Regions from separate parts of the Homo sapiens genome. Here region 1 is linked to region 2. Evidence: fine-mapped expression QTL. A gene starts in region 2. The other region holds a variant in brackets. All regions are shown on one strand. Distances are between the middles of the regions.

The links.
Region 1: its variant is fine-mapped to the expression of FSBP in subcutaneous fat (GTEx, PIP 0.98).

Annotation. Positions count from the first base shown.
Region 1 is chr8:94,356,129-94,359,052 of GRCh38, forward strand. No RefSeq gene overlaps it. Among named protein-coding and RNA genes, the nearest start is that of FSBP, 79 kb to the right of the region's middle. The variant T/C (reference allele first, on the strand shown) is at 1,199.
Region 2 is chr8:94,435,193-94,438,116 of GRCh38, forward strand. It overlaps FSBP (fibrinogen silencer binding protein), which reads right to left and starts at 1,752. Exons shown (of 2, transcript NM_001256141.2): 1 at 1,303-1,752. The coding sequence starts at 1,676. The region is part of intron 3 of RAD54B (RAD54 homolog B); the gene reads right to left. RefSeq lists an enhancer at 1-108.

The sequences.
Region 1 (2,924 bases), 79 kb before region 2:
AACCAAAAAACCCACAAAAACACAAATAGTACAGTTAATGGTTAGGAAGGCTACTCTGAGGAGGTGATGACTGAGCACCTAGATGTAAACTAATTAAGGAAGCCAGTGATGTTTAGGAATGTTTTCTTCTACATGAAAACAACACAACATTTCCTAGAAACATAAAAGAAGACATAAATATCTAGGGAGACATTCCATATTCCTGGATGAATACTCTAAATTATCTCATTTTTTTCTCAAAATTAATTGACAAAATAATTCTAAGATTAATCCAGAAAAATAACTGATATAGAGTAACCAACAAAATACTGAAAAAGAAGGATACTACAGAGGAATTTGATCTCCTAAATAATAATAAATCTTGAAATCCATATTAATTAAAATACTGTTCAAGAACAGAAAAATCAATAGGGAAAGAATGGATTATTTAAGTGTTATTACAATTGGGCAACCGTTTTCTAAAATTTAGATTCCTAACTCATTCCTCACACCAAAATTATAGATGGCAGAACCTGCAGAAATGAAAATAAGCATCTCTGAATTTCGGCGTTTTTTAAAAAACCTAGAACATCGTAAGTTCTCAAACACTGTATGGCAAATGAATTAATAAATGAATGAGATGAGACATAGAGCCCCTTACTGAGGAAATGAAAGGAGTTACCTTGCATTTTGTTATTTGTTTAATTCACTCGTTTATCCATTTAATTCACCTATATCGAGCACCCACTTGGTGCCGTCAACATCTCAAGATATAGGAATGACTGAAGTCTCAACATGTCCAGGAAGGTCGATCATATTTCTCACAATAAAGGGCTCCACCCAGGTCCAACTTTCAAGCAGATCCCCTTTTACCTAAAAGGTACTTAGCATTCTGGAAGCCTCAGTATTTGTTCCTTCCATTACAGGAACCCAGATGTAGTCTGCTCACAGTACTAACGAAAAGAGTGGATCTTCTAATTCATCTTCCTCAGCAGCACAAACTCTTCCCACCCTAGGAGCAGAAACCAGGCTGAGATGTATGGAAGCCTCCAGTACTAAGCTACCCAGACAGAAAGCAACATCCAGGTCAAAGCATCACTGTCCGACCACATGACCCTTCTACACCTGGGCCCCGAAGGCACTGCTAGGAGTCAACAGCTCCACCTGGTGACCAGAGGCTGGCCTTCATCAAAGGCTCAGGCACTGCAGCAGTTGAGAA[T/C]TTCTCTTTATGGGTATTTCCTCAGGCATAAATACAGTAACTAAAACATATGTTTTCATTGTCTGCTACTTATGGAATAAACATTAATGTTTTGTGTTTTCAAAGCTATTTAAGTCAAAAAAATCCTTTAATAATGTTTATGGAGAACTGAAAAATTGTTACTGGAGGTCTCACAAAAAAAATCACAGTGAAAAAACAAATAATTCTGTGCAAAAGTCTGTTTATTAAACCTATATTCATCTTACAACAAAATCAGAAGTTAATAACTAAGGTGTCACTGATTTCAAGACTATTTCCATCAAACTTTAAAGTTTGCTCATTTTTCATTTAATTAATAATTTAATACCCACCCCCCTACCAACACGACCCATGGGGAGACAATAAGTGTAAAGCTCTGACAATATAAAATGCTGTGGAAAATAATCCTGTCAGTCATATTGATAGCTAGAATGATTTGCCAGTTTTTATAGCCATCATAACAGCAGCCTGTGATTTGAAATCTCATAAAACAGGAAGCTGTGTGCTTAAAGACATGCCTGGAATTCCTGATGTGATGGGAGACAATTGTTGTGATCTGTTGCTGCCACCAGCAGGCCATTCTCACAAAATGGTATTTTCCCCTTTGCTTTTTGTTTCCAACTTACCTACTGATATTTCTTGACCACCACATTCTTTAATCAGGATAAATAATTAGATAAAAAAACAAATCTTTTTCATGGGTATCCTCAGTAACAATCACTTCTTTAAAATCTACCATATATAACCTTTTTAAAATTTATTTAACAAACAGGCCTAATCTTTCTGCTTATCTTTTATTCCTTTTTTTTTTCATAAGCTCCTAAATCCTTGCATTTTTTAAATCAGGTTCCTGGTAAATATATCTTAATATGAGAACAAGTGATCCTGGCATAAAAGGTAGAAGCCCACAGTTCATCACACTGATGACTGCTATAAGATATTCCTTAAATTTTCATTTAGCTGGCGAATTTAAGGCTGGTGCATACAAACAAGTTCTATAGCCACATCAACCTGGGATCAGATCCAGCTTCTTAGCATTGTGCTCTTGGGAAGCATTTAACCTTTCTAGGCATCAGTATCCTCCCTGTAAAATGAGGATAATAATAATACCCATGTCTTAGGATTGACAAGAGGAATAAATGAAATAATGCATATAAAGCATTTAGCAAAATGTCTGGCACATAGTAAGCCATCAATGAATGACTCATTATTATTATTAAAGTGTAAAAATTAAGACTTCCATACAATCAGAAGCCAAATCAATGGGAGAGTTCTGACTAGAACCTCCAAATCTGCTGATTCCAAGCCAAGGGCTTTGAACATCGTATTGCAATGATGCTTTCTATTTATCTAATTAAGATGAAGACTCTGGTTCTTTTGGGATAGGCCAAGATTGCTGAAAACATCACTTTTCAAATATGAAGTCCTTTTTAAGCCCAGAATTAGACAAACCATTAGGTTCCACTGGACGTCCCTCCTACATCTGAAAACAGCTTTCTCCCCCTTGGATGACAGAAGTGGTATTTTTATGGTAATATTTCTCATAAGAAGCAAGTACATGAGATTCCTCTTTAAGCTCTGAAATTTCTTTCTTTTGCAGAGCTTCAGATAAATAAAGCAGCTTTCCATTATGTGTTTCTGTCTAGCAAGGCTATTCAATATGTTCATGGTGGAGCATAGGCATGAGGGGCGCTCTCCAGCACAGTTA
Region 2 (2,924 bases):
TTGGGATTTCATCATTTGTCATCACAGTGAACATTTTAACCAGTGGCCCCAAGAATTAATCCACTGTGTATTCATGTCCTGGATTCCCACTGGTGATATTTTTTTTACTGTGCTATCAAGTAGAAATAAGCAGTATCTGGTAAGAAGCTAGGCTCAAAAATACTTTCCTAGTAAATTACCAAAATAACATATGCACTTGGCTACAAAGTGGTTTTTTTCTGCTTCTCTCCTAATTTCAAAGGGATTTCATAGTAATCAATAATTTGCTTATATAATGCCTCTTCCACCAATAGAAAAGCACATTGTGTAAAGCTTTGTTTGAAAGGCTCCTCAAACTAACAAGGAGTTTACAATTTGTTTAAATTACCCTAAATGGTTCAGAATAAGAATGTAGCTGCCATTTTTATATTTTGCCAGAGGTTACAATCTGAATTAGTGGCAAGATAATACTTTTGAAAATTCCAAGGCAAATAGTTACATAGAAGACAAGTTTAACCAAAAAATTGCTTCTAACTCTAAAAAAACCCAGTTGCTCTTAGGGGTATTTTAAAATTCATAATTTGATATCCTTGCAAAGCAGTAAGAGAAAGCTTACTCTTTCCTATACGACCCAAGATCAAAGTGAAACTAGACTATTAAGGAATAAAAACAACAACAACAAAAAACTTTTAATTTTATTAAGTAAACTGAATCCCTAATTAGGCATTAACTCCCTTTAGTTGTGTTCATCTTTATTTTAAACGTGTTAGAAAAATAATTTAAACTGTCTTCATATACACAATCATGCCATTAACAAGTTTACTTATTGATTTTGTTTATATTTGTTAGTTAACATATATTCAATAAGTGTAGACAATGACAATTCATAAAAAAGCAAGGTTCCATTTCTCTAGAAACTGCTAACTTTATATAAATTTTATATAAAATTGAAAATTCCAGTGAAATGTAATCTTAAATGAGAAAAAAAGTATCTCTCAGAAGCAAACTAAATAATTTAATTTTAAAGCTTAAGAAGTTTATGAAGTGATGTCACAAATTTCAACCCACTTATTCCTCCCTAACCTTTACTTTTAGAAACTACAGGAGGGAAGGGGGAGGGGAAGACAGTAAAAAGTAGCTTAAATGCAACAGAAAAATTCCTCATAGCCTCACTTTTCTCTTTTTAAAAAATGCAAAACAAAGACACTATTCATTGCTCCCGTTGTGGGGATGCTTACTATGCATATCTCTATCACGACTAAGCCAAAGCCCAATAGATAGGAGGCGCCATAATTTTCCATAACAAAACAAAATAAAGCTTACCTTTGTATGTGGTTCCTGTCTCTTACCAGGCAAAAACTGGAAATCTGGGGAATCATCTCCATAACTTTCTTGGTTGGCTCAGAAATATTGCTTTTAAAATCTGATTGGGTCTCTTTTTGCTGCAATAGCTCCTGTTTGGCATATTCTTTGAGCCTTTTATAAAGGGTGCGTAGGCCCTGTGCTGTTCGAGGAGGGCGGTCTACTCCAATTGCATTATAGTTAACTGCTATGATATCCCAACATCTATTCTTTTCTACTATTACTGAATGTTTATTAGTGTGTTCTTCGAGAATTTTCACATATGGCTTCACAAGCTTTAGCAAATCAAGCTTTTCGGATAAGGTAAAATTGGAAGATCTAGCCTTTCCTACCATTGTTCTTTTCAAATTAAGTAGGCAGTTTCTGAAACCACCATGCAGCCTTCAGCTCTGCTCAGCTCTTTTCACAAACAGAAAAAGATCAGGCTTAACTAGGCTAGCCTCATTTAGGCCCACGCCTACAGGGGAGGGTTTATTAAAATTCCTCCAGCTTAAGCTGACGCAGGTTCAGGAAATCTGCTTAAGCCAAGCCTGACCTACATAAAGCTTCTCACTGAAGAAGACAGGAAGGCACAAGCAAAACACACTTGTGTATAAAGGGAACAGCTCGAGACAGGATTTAATACACAAAGGTCTAGAGATAAGCATGGAACACAGCTAAAAATTAGCTAATTTAGTGAGAATATCAAATTTCACACATGTATGCCTAGCTGACAGACTGAACTGCATTGCAGTATCACTTTAATAAAAACAAAAGAGGAACTGTTTTGTGCTATTTATTTACAAATCCAGTAGACAGAAAACTAAAAGATATGAGTAGTGAATGTAGTAATTCCTAACAGAGCCTCTCATCACTGTTTCTGAGCTGAGTGTTCTCCCTTACAAAATCTGCATAATGCTGGATCTGCTGTCAATCAGGAATTGCATATCCTCTAGCTAGTTAGGTTACACCCAGACCCAGACTCCACAGTAAAGCTAAGCTTCTCCTTCATTTTACAGTCTACATTAGCCTCTGCATATTTTTTTCACTTAAGAAAAAATTTTTATAGAACACTCAATCTAAAAAGCAGGTAAAAATCATGTTTTTAAAGCAATGGATTATTCTAGCCGTAATGTATGTGAATTTGCTAGCCTGCCTTATCATGTGTAAAAAATCACTGTTCATGGTGAGAAACAGTATAATCACGCCTTAAGACTCCACATACAAAATCACATTTGCTATTATAATAGAGCCAGATTTTTTATTTAGCTATATTCACACAGTTTGGACTATGAAAGGAAACAGCTAGTCTAGCCATTTTCAAGGCCACCAGTTTCGGTGCTTAGAATATATTTGTTAACCCCAGTATGAAAATATATGATACATAATAATGTAAGCAAGACAAACCTATTTTCTCACAATATACATATTTTTCCAGATAGGGGAATAAATTAGAACATACTTGAACATAGTTCTATCCAATAAAACTATTACTGAACAACTGTGATAGTTATTAAGAGGTAGGAAAAATAAATTGTTTTTAATTACTGACCACGTATATAAATGCTCCCAGGCACTGTGCAAGACCCAATGAAATCAAAAAT